2 separate regions of the Homo sapiens genome follow, and region 2 is linked to region 1. Evidence: fine-mapped expression QTL. A gene starts in region 1. The other region holds a variant in brackets. All regions are shown on one strand. Distances are from middle to middle.

Region 1 (10,990 bases):
GGCTGCACGGTTGGTAGGATTGGTCTGCACTCTGAGTTTATTAGAGCAAAATAGGTGTTGAGTGTCCCTATGGACCAAATGTGGGACACACAGAAGAGAACGATCCTGGAGCCCCTTTAAATCCTGCTCAAGAAGACAGCTGGGGTGTGGGTGGAAGATAAATTGGGAGTCCTACGGAGGGAGGAAATTTGGAGGGGGACTCAGGAAATCCAGTGACACTTGCTTATGTGGGGGGCCCAGCAGCAGGGGCACCTAAGAAAAAATGAAGGCACCCACAAGATAAAGAGCAGGTTTGACATTAGCCAGGTTTGGAAAAGACAATGCCATCTTACAACTGTCCCAGTAAAGTAAGAACTTTCTTGCCCCTTCTTTTCTCTCTTCCCTTCCCTACTCTGATTCTGGAAGGGTCAAAACCAGCAGCTTTCATGGTGGTCTGGGATGAGGAAGGAAAGGAGAAGCTGACCACGTCTTCTCTCCTAAAGGCTGAGACCTGCCTGTGACCAGCTGTAGGTTGGGGAGGAGGGCAGAGTTCTTTTCTTTGAAATGAAGATTGAAATATGTAGTGATATATTGGTTTGGGCATTCTAATAGAAAGAATCTGGTACTTTCTATTACCTATAAGTGACCAAACAAGCTATATCCAGTGGCAGGGGTAGAATTGCCTTCACTGAGCAAGTTTAAAAGGACAGTGAGATAAAACATTAAAATTGCTTTTATGATTTCACCGAAGGAATACTGCGTCTTCATTGAATTGGTTATATCACCAGCAGGAGTGATAGATGTGTTTTTATAACCTACCTTCCAATGAGGTACCTAAAACATGGTGAATCAGATTTTTCCCCATATACGGATATGAGTGAATGCCCAATCTATGATAGAATTTCCTGGAGAATTTCTATGGGTTTCTCAGGAGACCCATCCCTCATATCCTTTATAGCCAAAACTTGCAATTTATAGATGTCGAAGCCCTTTAGCATAAGTGATCTCGACAGCTTATCACCACCAGGTCCCTGTGAAATGCAGAGAGCACCTAGTATTATTTGCACTATATGGAGAATAATAGCTAAGAGTTATTGAACACTCACTATGTGCTTGGCACTTATGCTAAATATCTTACAAATACCAAATTCATGTATAATACTATTAATTTCTCCACTCTACAGATGATGAAACGGAGTCTTAGGCTAAGTAGTTAATTTAAGGCCAAACATTTAGTAGAAGATATGGCTGCAATTTGAACTTGGCTGCCTGCCTTCAAATTCCTAACTTTGAACCTCTGCTCAGATGAACAAAATGGAAATCAGACATTTTAGCAACTCATTCGAGGATCTACATAGCATTAACAGATATTGGTCTTGTCTCATCCTTGTCTCATGGAGATCTTCAGTAGAGATCTTAGTTCTCTAGTAGAGAAAGAATTCACTAAACTATAGGAAGGAGATTAAACAGATAATACCTTTTCCAAGTGAAAAAACAAGTCTCAAAAGATAGTGTAAGTAAATTATAACTGTACACTAGAATATTTGGTGGCCAGGAAAAAATGTTTAAGGATTTTTTAAGGAAAGTAAAGCATTTTTCCATTCCAATAGAAAAAGTAGCCTATAAACTATTAATGCTTTCAAGTCTGTTTGAATACATGTATCTATACACATACATATATGCACACATATACATACACATAGCTAGTTATATGTATGTGTTTGTGGGTACATGTATGATCATATCACTTCTAATTTTTAATTTTTTTTTAATTTTTGTAGAGATGGGGGGGGTCTCACTATGTTGCCCTGGCTGGTCTTGAACTCCTGGCCTCAAGCAATCCTCCTGCCTTGTCCTCCGAAATTGTTGGGACTACAGATGTGAGCCACTGTGCTTGGCCTTGATTGTATCTTTTCATAATAGAAAAGTTTAGAATTAAATGCACTAAAATATTAACAGTATTACCTCTATGTTATGGAATTATGGGTAATTTTTACTTTTTCTCCTATATTTTTCTCTGTTTCCCCCCAAAAGATCAATCATATTATTTTTCCTCTCCATATAGGTTTATTAATATTTTATTTACTTAACATTTTTATTGAGATAATTTGCATACTGTAAAATTCACTCATTTTAACTATACCATTTGATGATTGTTATTAAATTTATAGAGTTGTGTATCCATCACCACAGTTCAATTTTAGATCATTTCTAGAAGATTTCTCAGGCCCATCTGCAGTCATCCCTTATTCCCACCTCCCAGCCTTAGGCAATCCCTAATCTATTTTCCATCTCTATAGATTCGCTTTTTCTGGAAGTTTCACATAAATAGGATCATACAACATATGCTCTTTTGGGACTGACATATATTGTGTTCTTTTAAAGAGAGGGAAATGAATAAATATTCTTTGGTTCTTTGCCTTTCCCATCCAATCCAAGCAAAAGCCTGTTTTCTTCCTCTTAATACTATAATAACTAATTATCAACAGAGTTTCCTTTACTCCTGTAGTTCTTGACCAGCAATCAAATCCCTTTCAGATCACAAGATAATCTATAGGACAGTAAAGCTATTCCTGATGTTTTAAGGATCTCTGTTTTTTAATTCCTCACACATTTCTCTATTTTTACATTAAAAAACTGATTTATAACTATTTTGTTCTTACCCTCTGGACAGTCATTGTAGACATGCCCTATACTCCCATTCTATTGGCAGAAACAGGGACACCATCACTGATGTGGAAGGGTTTGGAATCAGACAGACCCAAATTCCACTCCGGGGCCCCATCTCCTGTAGCTGGGTTATGGACCCTTCCTGAGTTCAGTGTCTTAGTGAGTATCTTGGAGTTACTTGTACCTACCTCCAGGGCTGGATGAAGACATGAGCATGCTCTGGACAAGCTAGTGATTGTTGGTTCTCCTTCGAAAGGATGTTCTTTAAATAAGTCTTCAACTTCTCTTTAGAGAAGAGGCAGGGCCCCCACACAGCAAAACAAAGGCCTTGCAGTTCATCAGAGCTACACTCCTTAAAATGCACTGTGGACTCCTCGAGGGTCTCACTCTCACTCCCAGCAGCTCATCAGTGTCTTCCTTCCAATCCAATTAACACTCTCCCTGAAAGTACTGATACATATCATTTTCAATATTTCACTACATTTTCAAGGATATTTATTGCTGTTTGTGGAGTAGTGTCTTTCTGGCTCTGCCTCATAGAGTGTTCTGAAGATTAAATGGGATCACACATGTAAGGAGTACTGCACAGGGTCTAACACTCAGTGGATGTTCAATAAATGGCGACTATTATTAGTATCATAACCAAAGCTATGGCAACTCTGAGCCTCTGTGTGATGACAGGTGATGTGCAGCTCCTTTCTCCTCTAGCTCCTTACCTGGAAACCTTCTTTGCAGAAAGGCATTTTCAGAAAGCTTTTGGTGACCTTGAAACATTCTCAGGTGCTCTCTGATGTCTTTATAAATGAAACTTAATATATATAGGAGATACAGTTCCTCCTTCATACCTGTATAGTAAAAAAGCCACAACATAAATACCTTTGGTTAATCTTTCTATAGTATATTATTTTAAATATTAGCATAAACATGATAGAAATTAACAGAATGAAGGTTAACTGGGGGAAAAGCCCTGAGCAGGGAGGGAGGAGTTGCTGTGGGAACACTGTGGCAGGTCTGAAACTAGATCCTGGCTATCCAGCAGAGGGAAATGGCACATATTTGGAGGCTTTTATATCATGGTAATAATTGTTTTATTAGGATCAAAGCATCCCAGAAAGCACTTGCTCTTTCCTTCTCTCCAGTCCCCCTGACTCTCCCCTGAGCAGGGTTGGATAGGAGGTTTGGTGGGGGGAGGAGGCAGGGAACAGTAGAAGAAAGCAATGCTATGTCCCTTTCCCCCATTGTCTGGCCCCAAATGTAGTGCCATAAATATCAAAACAGTGCTTGGTAATAGTCCAAAACATTTAACTTGTCCGCAAATTCCTAAACAACCATTGGCGTGTAATTTGGTTCTTGGCAGAGTGTAACTGAATAACTTGTAGACATGACATTTGTGTGAACATCTACAAGAGACAGGCCGTTATCACCACCCATTCAACACTCCAGCCAGAGGAAGAACAGCAAGGGGGCCAGCCATACAAGTTCACCTGCGCGTCCGGGGTCTCGGTTCTGCTGTGGCCCGGCTACTCCCCATTCTCAACTGTGTTTTCTTCACCATGCAGGTGATGGAAGCCCAGGCAGGCCCAGGGTTCAAGGCCAGTGACTTCAGCCTGTCACCCCCTCAGACCACATCGGGCCCACCGGCCTCCTCCCTCCCTGCCCCTCAGCCCTGCCCGCACTGCCCCCCATTGCGCCCAGCCCTTCCTCACCCCGCAGGAGAAGCTGGCCTCTCATTCCTCACTGAGAGACTCGACGGGCGTCCCCACGCCAAGCCTTCCTCGCCCTCCCCTCCAGCCTTTTCTGAAGGGGAGACAGCAAAGGTGAGCAAGCAACCGCCGGCAAGTTTCGACAGCTGCTGAGGAAGACTCATGGGTTTCTAAGGAAACAGAGAGGCAGCAGCCATTTTAGTAGCATTTGCTGTATGAAAAATATATAGACACTGGCAGCCCTCTCCCCACTCTGCCTTGGCGCCTGCCCTCCCGCCCCGCCTCAGAGGCCCCGGGGTGAGGGTGGGGCCCCAGTCTCCGAGGGACGCAGCGGACACCTGTCGCAGGTGGCCGGCCACCGGGGTCGCCACCCCCAGTGTCCCCCAGCAGCGGGACCGCGGGGTCCCCACCCCGGGGCGGAATCCCCACCCACGGGCGCCGCAGTGCAGCGGCGGGCGGGCGGGCGACTCGGCCCTCCCCGCACCCGCGTCCCGCCCCCCGGGTCCCCTCCCTCTCCCCACCGCCCCAGGCCGCGGGAGCCCGCGGGGAGGGCGGGCCTGTCGCAGCCGCGCTGGTCGCCAGGCGTCCGGGAGGAGCGGGGTCCGCGCGGCGGACGAGGCGGGGGCGGAGGCGCAGGCAGAGCGAGCGCGGGAGGTCGCCGCAGCCAGGGACACCGCGCGCCGCCGCTCAACATGGTCGCTGCGCACGCTGCCCATTCTTCCTCCTCTGCCGAGTGGATCGCCTGCCTGGATAAAAGGTAGCTCGCCGGGGGCCGCAGCCGGGGGCCGAGCTCTGCGGTGCTGCCCGGGCCCTGAGACCGCCGCAGCTCCGCACCTGGGCGCAGCGCGGCCGGGCTGCGGGTGGCCGGGGTCCCCGAGCGGGGGAAGGGGTTGAGGTCCTCGTCCGGGAGACAGGAGGACAAGGATCCCCGCCTCTCGTGGGGTGCCAGCGGCATGAGATTATTACACGTGGTGGAGAAAATGCAGCGCAGTAAGGGGAGAGAGCACCCACCTCTCCAACCCCCTGCCCTGCCGCGACTCCAGGCTCCGCTCCTGGGTGGGGGTTTATTTTCTCTTGGCATCACGGGACAGAAGAATCGATGCATACCCTTTCCGGCTATTCAGACCTTGCGGGGTATGAAGTTTTAAAGAGGGGTGGGGGCACCGGCAGGTGCAGAGTAACATTCTTTTTTTGTTCTTGAAAGCAAAGTGTGAGGGACCCGGTGGAGCTGTCGAATCCCTTGCTGAAATTCACAGCTCTCTGCCCCCGCAGTCGCTCGCTCAAGGTCTGTGTTAGAGAAGGTCATTTGGGAGGCTGCTTTCGTCTTAATACCTGCTTCTCGGGAAAAGATCTTTACGCTAAAAATAATTAAAACCATAAAGCATGTAACTCCCGACGACAGCTCTCTCTAAGGAGGATGTGTGTGTTAACAGTGGATTGCAGTTGTTTCCAGGCTGTGACAGCATAATTTTCTGTTTGTCCAGATTGCAGGTTTAAACGTTACACAGTATGTTAGCAATTATAGCTTATTACCCTGATTAAAAGGTGATGCATCTGAACTTTTAAGAACTGAGCAAGAAATCTTGCAGAGTGAACTGCCTCTGAATTTCGGAGTTTGATGCAGAAGGGCAATGATGCACGTCTTGCAGCTATCTGCATGACATCTCTATTTGCATTTGTGTGAAATATTTTGTGCTCTGCCATATTGAAAAATTTTCAATTAACAGATTCGTAACCAGATCAAACTTGAAAATCTTAAGTGTGACGTGCTTTGCATACTCTATTATAGGCCTTTGTTGAAAAATATTAAGTAATTTGAGAAAAGCTAAATGTAGCTCATTTGAAAAGCTTAATATATCTGAGAAATAATCTTGACTTTCAATTACCACTCAGTAGCAAGATTTTTTGGCAGGTAGTGCCCTATTTATGTCTAAAATGATATGTACTAATATTAAAAGAGTTGCATGCAATAAATAGTAAGAGAATTAAAGTAATAGTTAAATCACACAGGATTATGTAGAAGAACTAAGAGTATTTAAAGTATAGAGGTTGTTAATGTGATAAGTATCTACATTTAATAGTTCAGGAAAAAGGAATTATATGGGATTCAGGATCTTGCACTTAACCTATAAATAGTAGTGCTTCCTTATGAGCAAAATTTTTAGATAATAACATATTTCTATGTGTAGAAATGCATGGCATGGCATTTTTTGAACAGTCGGTAATTCACTGGAAACCCGTTAGTCAATAAGAAGTACTTATGGCAAAATCATAGAGCAATACTAACACAAGTGGGACATATTCGACTCTCTCTTTTCATAATGTGTATCTGCCTAAATGATTTTGCTTGAAATGGATTTTTTAGAGCATGGTGCCCCCATTTAATGCCACCATTCATAATGGGAAAAAAATCTAGGAAAAAAAAAAAAACCCTTCACAGATACTGAGCCTAGCATCAGAAGAGTCAGATGAGTGGATAGATCAATAAGTTAAGGGTTTTAGGCACAGAGCTGTTACCAGTTCTGATATTGGACATGTCACTTTTACTTCCTTGAGTGTCTGAAAAATGAGGATAGGACTATCAGGGATAAGTGGACAAATGGAAGGAGAAAAAAAAGGTGAAATAGTTTGAAAACTGTGAGTGCCATGTAGGCTTTTTGTTTTGTGGTATTAAAAGAACTTTGCATGTTCTGCAGTGTTCATGCCAGAATTAATTCCAATGAGGAACAGTTTAGGGCAGCAATCTCATTGTATGAAGGCCATGGGGGGACTTGTTTTGAAGTTGTGTTTTTACTTAGATTGTTTATTTATTTATTTTTTTTAGGAAAGGAGAAAGGTTGAGAGTGTTTATGGAAGTTGGCTAGGGAAGCCCCCTGAAACACCTGTTTAGTGGAGACACTGCCCTCAATGTTTCTGAGAAATGCTGTCTTGATCCTCTTTTCCAGGCACTGTGAAATGCTATCTTGATCCTCTTTTAAATGCTATCTTGATCTTCTTTTCCAGGCACTGTGCTGGGCACTGGGGATGCAACAAAATATGAGAGTTGCTTGTAGGCTTAGAGGGTAGGGGAGATTGGTGGTGGGACGGCTCTATAAACAGCTAACCACAATGCAATAGTAAGTGCTTTAATGGAGATGTATAAAGTGCTTTGGGAATGCAGATGAGAGAGTTATCGAGATACTTCCATAGGTGTCCTGCCTAGAACTCAGAGGCTGAGAACAATTTTACCAGGCACAGAATAGGGAGGGCATGCCAGGGAGTGGTGTGGCATATGAATATGCTAATTTCTTCCCAACCACAAATTCCTCTTGTGACCAAATCTAGAGTATAGGAATGTATGCTCTATTTTTATAAAATCTTTTTTATTATGGACATTTTCAACCCTGCACAAAAGAGAAAGTACAATGAACCCATGTGGGTTCACTTGGGAATATGATGCTGGGACCTTTCAACTGGGAAAAGGACGTAACTGGGAAACACAGTTCAAATATATGCCTCATTCAAGTGACAACTGTTGTGGATGGTGAAAAAAAGAGAAACCCTGGGACTGGAAATAAAAAGAGAGTTAAAAGAGAAAGTCTGCAGTAGTAAAGAAGTATACAATGAAATTTGAAGTGAAACAAAACACAAGGAAAATAGAGCCTTAAAGTGTTTGTTAGGAATGCCTAGAAAGCTATCATAGACAGGACAATATTTGCAAGTGGGGAAGGGTGTTGCAAGTGTTGTAGATATGTAGATTAGATTAAAGAAACAAAATCTATAGCTTTTTATGTATCAATCATCCACCATCTTGGACTATGGTGGGACTGAGGAGATGAGGGTCTACAAATACTAATCTTAAAACCAGAAAGACAGGACATTGAACATTTGGATGGATAAACCAACATTGAAAAAAGTCTCAGCAGATGTATTGTTAGAGTAAAACAAGCTCACCACTATCTCAGGGATCTTACCATTTTTTTCTGAGGGGATGGCAACTAGGAACAAATTACATAGTTCCCACTATTTGGGACTTAAGATAGGTAAAATGTCCTTTCTTTTTTTTTTTTAAGTGTGCTGACCATTGTTTAAGTTTTTTTGTTTTTGTTTTTGTTTTTTGAGATGGAGTCTCACTCTGTCACCCAGGCTGGAGTGCAACGGTGTGATCTTGACTCACTGCAACCTCCCCCTCCTGGTTTCAAGTAATTCTCGTGTCTCAGCCTCCCGAGTAGCTGGGATTACAGGCACACACCACCATGCCTGCCTAATTTTTGTATTTTTATAGAGACAGGGTTTCACCATGTTGGCCAGGCTGGTCTTGGACTCCTGACCTCAGCTGATCCGCTCGCCTTGGCCTCCCAAAGTGCTGGGAATACAGGTGTGAGCCACCACACCCGGCCCATTGTTTAATTTTAATGAAAATATTTTTCCCGTAAGATTTTAAATTTGCCAACTGTGAACTTCAGATCCACTTATAAGTCCTAGTTCTCAGGGTTGGTAAAGGAGTATTATGAAGGGACAGGGACCATACACATTCATGTAGTATAGCGACTCATTGCTGGCATTCATCATGATGGGACAGGCATTGACAAGCTATGGCCTGTGGGCCAGATCTGACAGCTTGCCCGTATGTCTCGTGGGCTAAGAATGGTTTTCACATTCCTGAATGGTTGGAAATAAATCAAAAGAAGATCAGTATTTTGTGACCCATGAAATTTAGATGAAATTCAAATTTCAGTGTCTATAAACAAAGTTTTATTGGAACATAGCCATGCTCATTTGGTTACATATTGTCTACAGCTGCTTTCCCGCTGCAGTGGCAGAGTTGAGTAGCTGCAATGGAGACTGTGGGCCCACAGAGCCTGAAATATTTACTATGTGGACCTTTACAGAAAAAGTTTGCCATCTTTTGTTATAGATGAAAGAACCTATCTAAGTGATTGACAGTGAAACCACTGGAGATGAAAGAAATCGTTTTCATTTGGAAAGGAGTTCACAGTGTTTGGTTTCTTGTTCTTTAATTAGAAGTATAGGTTGGAGAAAGGTTCTCAGTTGATTGGCTTATTTGAGGAACACTGGCCGTCACAGCCAAAGCAGATGATGAAGTTAACATGGTTATTCAAAAGGTTGTGATCTTTCAAAGGCAGCAGATGAATTTTTTTTAAGTATTCGTGTTTCAGTTTAAAAATACTCCATGGACAGTTTCCATCTGACTTGCCCCCAAATAGATGTTATTTTAGCTATTTTGATTAGGTTGAATTCGAGTGAAAGAAATCAAGAAACAAATTTGTTAAGAACCAAAATGCTTTGTAGCACACATGGTGAGAGAAGATAACTCAGATATCAAAGAAGCATCAGACATGGGTCCACCCTTGAGAAATGCAGAGGATCAAAGAAGCACACAGAGCAGAAAGGGGTCCCTGGAGGAGGCTAGTATCTACTAGCCATGTCCCAAGGGATGACATTACCCCGGTACATCCTCCAGGGCTCAGGCTGGTCTTGCAATCTCAGAATACTGACTTGTTAGCACATCAAAAATTAATGTATCTTTCAGCAACAGATACACAGGTACCAGACTCTCAGAGACTCTAAAAGCCAGAAAGACAGTTTATTAATTTGACAATAAGATCTGTCACATCAGAGAAGTGGACACTCACGTCCTTTGGCTAATGTATTCTTCCTCTAAGTAAGCCATATGGGAAATCCAATTATTCTCAGAAGTCCGTTTTCTGCATTTACAATGAGAAGCCAAGCTGCCAGGAGGTCAGGATGCTTACATCTTCTGGCCTGTACAGGAGTACATCCTCTTCCTAGAGCAACAGAGCCTGGGAATTGGATGATAATGAGAAGGCAGTTCTGGGAATCGTCCAGGACAGCGTGGCTGCCACCTTTTCCAGTCAGATCACCATTACCTGTGCTCTCACAGCACACTTTGGTCCCACTCTGTAATAACATAGCACAAGTCCGATTCCATTGTAATGGCCTGCTTACTTCTCTTTTCACATCACTTGACTTTAGTCCCTATATTTTATTCATCATTTTATCTTCAGCTTCAGTGCAGTGCCCTGACTAGAGAAGGTGCTAATGGGCCCAGGGCAAGATGGCCACAGGCATCCTTCTCCTCAGGGATGGTGGCCTCTGTAACCCAAAAAGGCCCTTGCACTGGGCCCTTTGCTGGGGAAGGGCGTGGGTGACACCATCCACATCTGCCTCTGTTGCTTCTTCTATGTTTTTTGGCTAATGTGAATACTTTTTTAAAAATGACACTGCATAGCTCTAATCTAATCTATTCTTCCTCCTTAAATCCTCACCCACCTTTGAAAAAAAAACTAACATCTTTTTATTGTGGAAAAAATCAAAATATACAAAAAGAAGAAATAGCAGTATGATTCTTAATTCTTTTTGTTTGTGTGTGTGTTTTTAGACAGGGTCACTCTGTCACCCAGGCTGGAAGGCAGTGGTTTGATCACAACTCACTGCATCCTTGACCTCCTGGGTTCAAACGATCCTCCTGCCTCAGCTTCCTGAGTAGCTGGGACCACAGATGTGTATCTCCATGCCTGGCTAATTTTAAAAATTTTTTGTAGAGATGGAGTCTCCCTATGTTGCCCAGGCTGGTCTCAAACTGCTGGGCTGAAGTGATCTTCCCACCTTGGCCT
Region 2 (10,990 bases), 160 kb before region 1:
CGAGAAGCTGAGGCAGGAGAATCACTTGAATCCGGGAGGCAGAGGTTGCAGTAAGCTAAGATTGTGCCATTGCTTTCTAGCCTGGGTGACAGATCAAGACTCTTTGTCTCAAATAATAATAATTAAATAAATAAATATAAACAATACATTTGATATCTATTTAGATTGTCCATTTCTTCCTGAGCTCCTGAGCTGTGTCTATAGTTTGTGTGTGTTTTTTTGTTTGTTTTTTGAGACAGAGTCTTGCTCTGTCGCCCAGGCTGGAGTGCAGTGGCAGGATCTTGGCTCACTACAAGCTCCGCCTCCCGAGTTCACGCCATTCTCCTGCCTCAGCCTCCCGAGTAGCTAGGACTGCAGGCACCCGCCACCATGCCTGGCTAATTTTTGTATTTTTAGTAGAGATGGGGTTTCACCGTGTTAGCCAGGATGGTTTCGATCTCCTGACCTCGTGATCCACCTGCCTCAGCCTCCCAAAGTTCTGGGATTACAGGCATGAGCCACCACGCCCAGCCTATAGTTTGTGTTTTTATAGGAATTTGTCCATTTCATTTAGGTTATCTAATTATTACACACAATTGTTCATAGTATTCCCTAATAATTCTTTTTATTTTTGTAAGATTGGTAGTGATGTCCCCACTTTCATTCCTGGTTTTATAAATTTGAGTCTTCTTTTTTTTTCTTGGTCAATATAGCTAAATACTTATCAATTTTGTTAATCTTTCTAAAGAACCAATTTTTTATTTCATTGATTTTCTCCATTTTTCTATTCTGTATTTCATTAATTACACTCTAGGCTTTATTATAATTTCCTTCCTTCTGCTTGCTGTGGTGTTATTTTGCTCCTGTTTTTCTAGTTTCTTAAGGTGGAAGTTTTGGTTATTCATTTGAGACATTTTACAACTATAATTTTACTTTAAGCACTGCTTTGTCTATCTTACAAGTTTTTAATGTTTTGTTTTCATTTTCATTCATCTCAAAGTATTTTCTAGTTTCCTTTTGGATTTTTCCCATTGGTTAATAGGATTGTGTTGTTTAATTGCCACATACTTGTGAATTTCCCATGTGTTCTCTTAATCATTTAAATTTCATTCTGTTGTGATTGGAAACATACTTTGTATGATTTCAAGTATACATCTATTGAGATTTGTTTTACAGCCTAACATAGGGTCTGTCTTGGAGAATGTTCCATGTGTACTTGAGAAAAGTGTGCATTCTGATGCTGTTGAATGTTCTACAGATAGCTATTAGGTTTAGTAGGTTTGCAGTGTTGTACAAGCTTGTCTTTCCTTGTTGATCTTGTAATTGTTATATCCATTGTTGAAAGTGGAGTATTGAAGTCATCTCCAATTATTGTTGAATTGTCTATTTCGCCCTTCAGTTCCATCAGTTTTGCTTCATGTATTTTGGAGCTCTGTTGAGTACATATATGTTTTTAATTATTATCTCTTTTTTGTGTATTAACCTTATATCATTAAAAAATGTACTATTTTGTCTCTTATAACAGTTTTTGTTTAAAAGTATATTTTGTTTGAAGTTAGTGTAACCATCCCAACTCTTTTTGTTTCTGTTTTCATAGTGTAACTTTCCAGACTTTTAGTTTAAACCTCTTTGTGCCTTTCAGTCTAAAATGTGTCTCTTTATAGCATACAGTTAGAATTTAAAACCATTCTGCCAATGTCCACCTTTTAATTGGAATGTTCAGATCAATTAAATTTAATATAATTACTATTAATGTAATTAACAGTAATTTTGGTTTATGTTTGCCGTTTTGTCTTCAATATATGTCATATCATTTTTTATTATTTCTCCATTATCACTGTCTTTTGTTAAAATATTTTGTATTATATCATTTTAATTTCGTTCTTGTTTTTGTTACTATATTTCTTTGAGTTTTTTAAGTAATTATCCTGGGGATTACAATTAACACCTTAATTTATAATCTAGTTCAGATTAATACCAATTTGCTTTCAATAGTATACACTGACTTTTCTCCTAAATAGGCCTTTTCCCCTCCCCACCCATCCTTTGTGCTGTTATTGTCATATAACATACATTTTTGTACATTGTGTGCCTGTCTACAGAGATTTATAATTATTGTTCTATTCAATTGTCTTTTAAATCAGATAGGACACAAAAAGAGTTACAAACAAAAAATATACTCATATTTTCCTTTAGATTTACTTTTGTAATAACTTTTACTGGCACTGTTTATTTCTAAACATGGATTCAATGTTTTGTCTAGTATCCTTTTGTTTCAGCCTGAAGGATTCCCTTTGGTATTTCTTGATAGCCCATGTCTGTCAGTGATCATCTCTCTCAGTTTTTGCTTATCTGGAAATGTCTTAATTTCTCCTTCATTTTTGAAGGATAGTTTTGCTGGTTATAGAATTCTTGTTGATAGTCTTTTTCTTTCAGCACTTTGGAATATGTTATCTCACTGCCTTCCAGCCTCCATGGTTTGGATGAGAAATCAGCTGTTACAATCTTATTGAATATTGCACATATGTGATGAGTCATTTCTCTGTTTCTCAGACTGGATAATTTCAATTGACCTGTCTTCACTCTCACTGATTCTTTTCTTTCACATGCTCAAATATGCTGTTGAACCCCTCTAGTGAAATTTTCATTTCGTTTATTTTTCATTTCATTTATTGTACTTCTCAATTCCAGAATTTCAACTTAGTTCTCTTATATAATATCTATCCTGTTTTTTTCACCTTTGCTAAATGTTGATGCATATCATTTTATTGCCCTATATTTTATTGTTGTATCGTTTAAAATTTTCTATTTTGAGACATCCTTATACTTTAGTTCTTTAGTGTTTGTTTACGGAGTGTGAGTTTACTGACTCAGGTATAGTTTATTGACTGATTTTTCCTTGCCTGTGTATGGGCAATACTTTTTTGTTTTTTTCATATCTTGTTATTTTTATAGAAAACTGGACATTTAAAATAATATATTTTGACAGCTCTGCAGATCAGATACTGCTGTCTCCCCAAGGCTGTCTTTGTTGTTGTTTTGTAATTTTTTTTTTTTTTGGAGTTAATTCTTTTAAGTTTGAATTCTTTGTTGTGTGTGGCTTCTGAAGTCTCTGCTCATTTAGCTTAGTGGTCAGCTAATGACTGGACTGAGATTTCCTCAAATACCTGGAATCAGTAAGTTTCCCAGTCTTTGCCAAGGGACTCTGTGTGTGTATAGAAGTGTTCAGGAGAATATCTTCAACACTCAGCCAGGCAGTTAACAACTGTGCCTTAACCTTTAGGTCCTGCTCGCATAGAGCAATTAGAGGTGAGAGCTTAGGGCCTTCTCAGTGTCTTTCCTGAGCATGACCCTGGGCATGAGTATGGCCTTCCAGATTCCCAGGAGATAGCTGAGGTTTTCAAAGCCCCTATGGCTATCTCATTCCCTAGACCTTCCTGTTAAGCTTTTTGGTTAGCCTTATTGTTTGCCCTAGCTGTTGTCCAGTTTCTTCTGCAGCCCTCAAATTAATCAGTTACTTCTAATTGTTTTTGACAGATGTTTCCAGGGATGGGGGTGGGGTGCAAGACTTTTGTACTGGGGAGCTCAGAGTCAGGTCAAATAAATACAGTCTTCCCAGCAGCTACCAGGCTGCTGGTTTCACTCTGATTGCATATTGATTGGAGGGAGGGGGAGCAGATGGGAGCAAGTTAAAATGCTTACTGTTCTTATACGGATTCAGTTGTTTTACTTGAATAAATGTTCCCCAGATTGCTGCATGCCTTTAGTTAATTTCCAGAATTCTGTCAAAGTAGATTCTAAATGATTTTTGCACCCCCCTCCCCCGCTCTTTCTTTTTTTTTTTTTTTTTGGTGCTTTGATAGAGGAGAGACTTTTGCAGGTTCTTTCTCTTCTATTTTTGCTGATGTCACTCCTGCTGTTCTTTTTGAGAAGACAACGTTTATTACAATTCCTCTTCCTTCTTATGTGACCAGTTTTAGGTGTCTACTTTTGTTTAACTAGAGTTTTTAACTTTTTTTTTTTTCTTTTTTTTAAGCTGTGCTCTGAAGTTTCAGTGATGTGACTTGGTGTGGGCCTTTTCTTACTTACTGGGCTGTGGTCTTTGAACTTCCCATTATTTTCTTGATATTTTCCTTTTCACTGTGTGTTTAGTCTCTTTCTGATAGTCATATTAAGAGGATGTTGGGCTTCATGACATCACTCCCTGTTTTTTATCGCTTCAACTTTTTATTCTATTCTGTGAGATTTCCTTGACTTCAGATTCCCAGCCCTTCTATTGAACTTTTATTTCCATTATCTTACAAATTTCCAAGAATCCTTATTTTTAAAATTAATCCCTTTTTAGAATTCTGCTCTAGTTTTATTTTATTGCTCTAAGGATATTATTTTTTTTTAATTAATTTGCCTCTGTACCCTGCATTGTCCGTTTCCTGAGTTTCCTTTTGTCCGTTTCTCTCTCGTTTGTTCATTTTAAAGAGATAGGCACAAAAAAGTCAATAAATGGCGATGCCATCTGTTTGCTGTAAAAACAATATGAATGTATCACTTTTTTTTTTTTTTTTTTAGCTCAGATGCTAATGTGTCTATTTTTTGGTTAGTTGTGTGTCAGCTACTTTCCCGTTAAGGTTTACAGTCAAGAAAAGACCCATTGGTCTTCTGGTTTGGGGCTTAAGTTGTGCTGCAGCATGTTCTTTCTTGTACCTTTTTCTGCTTCTATTAGAAGTGCTTTATTTAGCATTTTGGTCTGCAGCTGCTTTCTATTGCTATTATCCGTCATTGCATAGATCAAGGTTTACTGAGTTCTTAGACTCTCAGAAGAGATTACTTCTGTGCTGGTGGATGGGCTTAACCTCAGGAATCTGTCTTTATGATGTAAAGAAAAATTCATAATGACCCAGCAATCCTACTCCTATGTCTATACCTCAAAGGATTGAGAATATTTAGGCAAAACCTTACACACAAATACTCATAGTGGCACTATTCACAATAGTGTACAGGTAGAAACAACCCAAATATCTATCAGCTAATGAATGGATAAACAAAATGTGGTATGTCCATACAGTGGAATATTATTTGGCCACAAAAGGAATGAAATACTGATAAATGCTACAAACTGGTTGTTGTAACATTGAAGACATTATGCTAAGTGAAAGAAGCCAATCACAAAAGGCCACATATTATATGATATTATTTACATGAAATGTCCAGAATAGGCAAATATATAGGGACAGAAAGTAGATTAGTGGTTGCCTAGGGATATGACCACTAAAGGAGCTAGGGTTTCTTTTGGAGGTGATGAAAAATTCTAAAATTGACAGTGGTAATGGTTGCACATATCGATGAATATATTAAAAACCATTCAATTATATACTTTAAGTGCATTAATTATATGGTATATAAATTATTTTTATCTTTTTTGAGATGGAGTCTCCCTCTGTTGCCCAGGCTGGAGTGCGGTGGCATGATCTCAGCTTGCTGCAAGCTCCGCCTCCCAGGTTCAAGCGATTCTCCTGCCTCAGTCCCTAGTAGCTGGGACTACAGGCGCCTGCTACCACACCTGGCTAATTCTTGTATTTTTAGTAGAGATGGGGTTTCACCTTGTTGGCCAGGCTGGTCTCGAACTGCTGACCTCAAGTGATCCGTCTGCCTCCGCCTCCCAAAGTGCTGGGATTACAGGCATGAGCCACTGCGTCCAGCCTGCTATGTAAATTATATCTGAATAAAGCTGTTTAAAATAAAATAGGCTTGTAAAGGTCTCAAAAAAGAGTGTTCTAGAAGCCTGCTATGTTAATTATATTTGAATAAAGCTGTTTAAAATAAAATAGAAAGGCTTGTAAAGGTCTCAAAAAGACTGTTCTAGAAGTCCTGTCTGTATTAGGCTCTGCCTTCACCTGTTGTTTCTGCTCCTCACATCCAAGGTCACATGAAGGCATCTCCTCTTGCAGCCTCTCTTTACATGTTGAATTCTTGCTTTTTCTTCAGTCGAG[C/G]TTTGATCCCCATTACTTACCCTAGACTTTTAGAATCAAGGCTTGGTTTTGTTTCTTCCCCATTTTTTTTAGCTTGTTCAAATTATTGACATTTTTTACCTTTTATCCTCTTGCTAAAAATCCTATACAAAAGTTGTTGTTTCTGTCTTACAGCCCTAGCTGCTCTTTCAATTCTGTGTTTAGTATATAATCTATAAATAACCTATGTGTTATAGCCACATGTCTTTTTTTTGTGTGTGTGTGTTTTTTTATAGATGGAGTGTTATTCTGTTACCCAGGCTGGAATGCAGTGGCAGAATCTCAGCTCACCATGACCTCTCTTTCCCGGGTTCAAGCAATTCTCCTGTCTCAGCCTCCCGAGTAGTGGGGATTACAGGCACGCACCACCATACCTGACTAATTTTTGTATTTTTAGTAGAGACAGAGTTTCACCATGTTGGCCAGGCTGGTCTTGGAACTCCTGACCTCAAGTGATCTGACCACCTCAGACTCCCAAAGTGCTGGGATTACAGGTATGAGCCACAGCGCCTGGCCTACATGTCATTTAAATTAAAACTTAAATGTCTTGGTTCATTTACTGTTGATGATTTTACAGACTTAACAGTGAAAACGCTGTTGGCTAAGAAACTTTAGGAACTCTGGGTGAATACAGGGAATGTCCTGGCTTTAGAGCTGTCATCTAGTCAGTAGTGGTTCATTTCATCTGGGCCTAGAGTTCACATGAATTAACCTAGGGAGCCTAGTGTTACTGGGAATAGGAAGTTAGGGATGGCAGCTCTTGGTTAGATGACATTGACAAGTGGTGCTTTTGTGCACTGAAGAGAAAACTTTAAAAATAATTGGCAAACTTCTCTTCCTTGGCCTTCCTGTTGACATTACTTATCTCATTATCTTAATAAGGTTTCGTGTTAGTTTTCACATCTCTCTTTCAATACATTTGTCATCAAAGGTACCATTCTTCTTGCCTTGAATATATACAGACTAAATATCTGTCTCTCCATTATTCCCTCCCTCCCTTTTCCTGAAGAACTTGGATCCTCCAATAATCTATTACTGCTCTTTTGGAAACTCTTTTGCCTACTTTAAAATCCACTGGCTCCAGTTTATTGTATTGTTGGCTGCAAAGCAAAGTACTACTTTGACTGTAGTTTCTAACTCTATTCCTGTGGCTTAGTTTGCCCTTTACCTCTAGCAACATGATGCTTCTCACATCCTCTCTGTCCTGTCTGCTTATCCCCTCTTATTTTCCCATGCAGCCTGAGGCTGGAAATGACTTCTTATTTTGTACTTGCTAGGTTGTTGTTACAGTCTCCGTGGCCAAAAGGTTAAGGAAAACCAGGAAATATTTACTCAAGTCTACCTTTTTATCTTAGTATCTATTCTAATATGTTCTTTACTCCCTTCATGTATTTATAGAATACACATACTTCCTATTCATGTTAACTAGCAAATGTGCAGCAGAGCATTGAATTAAAGGATGAGTAATTAACAAATTGATGGATTTCTCAAAATACCCAGAGCTCTTTATTCATCTTACTAAAATAAATTACTTTACAGGGCCAAGAGCAATTTCAAGCATAATGCTGCATAAAAGTTTTCTGGTTTTTTTTTTTTTTTTTTTTTTTTTTTTTTTACTGAGCAGAGTCTCGCTCTGTCACCCAGGCTAGAGTGCAGTGGTACAACCTTGGCTCACTGCAACCTCCTCCTGGATTCAAGAGATTCTTGTGCCTCAGCCTCCCGAGTAGCTGAGATTACAGGCGTGCACCATGACGCCTGACTAATTTTTGTATTTTTAGTAGAGACAGGGTTTTGCCATGTTGGCCAGGCTGGTCTCGAACTGCTGACCTCAAGTGATTCGCCGGCCTTGCCTCCCAAAGTGCTGGGTTTATAGGTGTAAGCCACCACACCCAGCCACAAGTTCCTAATAAAGTCCTTGTATACTTTATTATTGATAGTGTAATTACTTAATTTTAGATGTATTCGAGGCACATCTTTCAATGGTATTTCAAGGCAGATTTTTTTAGTTATAAAAATCAAAATATCTACATAATTACCATTATAAAGGTAATATATATATACTGTAACAATTTTTAAATATATAAAAACTCAACTATAAGCCATTCAGCCTATTGACTTTTAATACATATTATTCAGTACTATTTTAATCTATATATACATAAATTAAAAGCAGATTTGTTTGTGTATGACAACTATATTGTTATAGGCAGTAAAATCAATTCAGATTCTGTGACAAAGGAAAATGGCTGTAGTAGATTAGAATATAAGCTGGATAGTAGCTAGGAAAATAAGTCCATGTTAACTTTGAAGGAAAAGAAAAATTGTATGTAAATAAATTACTAAATTTGATTTGCCATACTGTTTGAGTTGAAAAATGATATGAAAATGTAAAGACCTACATGCCTTACGAACATATCAGAAAGTTTTCTGGGGTTCTAGGCTGTAAAATTGCTGGTAGATGGAAATACAAAGTAGTGGTTCTGTCTTTTTCTCCCTGAAAATGAAAATTATACTGTTTTTTTCCTGTTAAAGTAATTGTGAAGAAAATTCAGAAACTGAAAACCCCAAACAAGAAGAGAAAATTACTCATTCTACAGACAATAAAATTAGATATCATTTCAGACCTTTTTATAATAGAATTTTTGCAGAGTATTATAAATGCTTCTTTGTAACTGTTTTTTTTTTGTTTGTTGGTTGGTTTTTTTTGCTGCTTAACTATCTCTTATGCCAGTATATGGAGTTCTATATAATATCTAATTAATGGTTAACAATATTCTATTTTAGAATGTACTTTCTTTTACTTAACTAATCCCCTATTTAGGTTGTTTACTTTTAGGTATTCTGCATAGAGCTGTGATGGATGTTCTCATATATACTTTGCATGCTTTTCTGCTTATTTTCTCAGGATAAATTTCTGGAAGTGACATTGTTGTGTGAAAGGTACATGCTTTTTTTTTTTTTTTTTTTTTTAAATAGAGGCAGGGTTTTATTCTGTCACCCAGGTTGGAGTACAGTGGTGAGATCATAGCTCACTACAGCCTCGAACTCCTGGGCTGAAGTGATCCTCCTGCCTCAGCCTCCCAAGTAGTTGGGGATTACAGGCATGCACTACCACATCTGGGTAATTTTAAAGTTTTTTTTTTTTTTTTTTTTGTACAAACGGAGTCTCACTATACTGCCCAGGCTGGTCTGGAACTGCTGGGCCCAAGTGATCCCCCTGTTATGGCCTCCCAAAGTGTTGGGATTATATGTGTGAGCCACCAGACCCACCCAATATATGCTTTTCTTTTTTTGTTTGTTTTTGTTTTCTTAATTTAGAGACAGTGGCTCCCTCTGTCACTCAGGCTGGAGTACAGTGGTGCCATCATACCTCACTATAGCCTCCACCTCCTGGGCTCAAGTGATACTCCTTCCTCAGCCTCCCAAGTAGCTGGGATCACAGTTGTATGCCACCATGCCCAGCTAATTTTAGAAAATTTTTTGTAGCGATGGGGTCTTACTCTGTTGTGCAGGCTGATCTCAAACTCCTGGCTTCAAGTGATTCTCTTGTCTCAGTCACCCAAAGTGTTGAGATCACAAGCGTGAATCACCATGCCCAGCCTAGTACATGCATTTTTAATTTTTTTTTTTTTTTTTTTTTTTTTTTGAGAAGGAGTCTTGCTCTGTCACCCACGCTGGAGTGCAGTGGTACGATCTTGGCTCACTGTGACCTCCATCTCCTGGGTTCAAGCAATTGTTCTGCCTCAGCCTCCCAAGTAGCTGGGACTACAGGCATGTGCCACCACACCTGGCTAATTGTTATATTTTTAGTAGAGATGGGGTTTCGCTGTGTGGGCCAAACTGGTCTTGAACTCCTGACCTCAAGTGATTCACCCATCTCTGCCTTCCAAAGTGCTGGGATTACAGGTGTGCATGTTTAATTTGCTTCTAGTCACCATGCTGCCCACCAGAAAGGAGTAACAGATTTATAGTTACATACAAGATAGGGTTAACTTGTGCCCAGTTCTGTGCTATAATGCACTGTTAATGAGACTCCCGGAAATATACAAAGCCACAGCAGTATTATGATGGAGTTTATGTATTAGAGTTTCACATATTAGAGGAGTTGGGTTGGGTTCAACAGCGAGGGAAATGCTTATATTGGCAACTTGGATTGTGTTGTATTCATTTTCAAAAGCAGCACTCAGGCTGGGTGCGGTGGCTCATGCCTATAATCCCAGCACTTTGGGAGGCCAAGACAGGCAGATCATGAGGTCAGGAGAACGAGACCATTCTGGCTAACATGGTGAAACCCTGCCTCTACTAAAAAAAATTAGCCGGGCATGGTGGCAGGCGCCTGTAGTCCCAGTTACTCGGGAGGCTGAGGCAGGAGAATGGCATGAACCCGGGAAGCAGAGGTTGCAGTGAGCTGAGGTCGCACCACTGCACTCCAGCCTGGGCGACAAAGCGAGACTCTGTCTCAAAAAAAAAAAAAAAAAGCGCTCTCCCACCAGCAGTTAAACTGTGATGCTATGAGTATGTGTTGATATTTTGCTGTTTTGAGGATTTGGGCATAGAGCACGATCCTTTTCTTACCTTAGATGAGTGACCGAGGAGGTGGCGTTCCTTTGAGGAAAATTGACAGACTTTTCAACTACATGTATTCAACTGCACCAAGACCTCGTGTTGAGACCTCCCGCGCAGTGCCTCTGGTATGTTATCAAGAAATAATGAAGTGTGTTTCTGTGAATTGCCTTCCACATGCTGTAGCTGCCAAATAAGTAAGTTAAGCCGTCATGTAGGGTACTCCACAAGGAAGAAAGAAGCTCTTAGAAATGCACACTTTCCCCTAAATTTAAACAGCCTTCAGAATACTTTTTTTTTTTTCCAACTGAAATGGGCACGAGACAGAGATTTGGAGTTCTTGTTACAAAGTTTGATCGTGATATAGCAGTAGTTTTCCTGTGTAAAACCACATTTTGAAATATGGTTAACCACATTATTTCTAATGTGGGGAATAAATTACT

The links. PIP is the estimated chance that this variant, and not a neighbour inherited with it, causes the effect.
Region 2: its variant is fine-mapped to the expression of RAPGEF4-AS1 in prefrontal cortex (GTEx, PIP 0.98).

The regions. Positions count from the first base shown.
Region 1 is chr2:172,730,940-172,741,929 of GRCh38, forward strand. It overlaps RAPGEF4-AS1 (RAPGEF4 antisense RNA 1), which reads right to left and starts at 5,267. Exons shown (of 4, transcript NR_026995.1): 1 at 5,187-5,267; 2 at 4,356-4,522; 3 at 3,366-3,494. It overlaps RAPGEF4 (Rap guanine nucleotide exchange factor 4), which reads left to right and starts at 4,906. Exons shown (of 31, transcript NM_007023.4): 1 at 4,906-5,109. The coding sequence starts at 5,045.
Region 2 is chr2:172,575,714-172,586,703 of GRCh38, forward strand. It overlaps PDK1 (pyruvate dehydrogenase kinase 1), which reads left to right. Exons shown (of 11, transcript NM_002610.5): 9 at 10,565-10,675. Among named protein-coding and RNA genes, the nearest start is that of PDK1-AS1, 25 kb to the left of the region's middle. The variant C/G (reference allele first, on the strand shown) is at 5,967.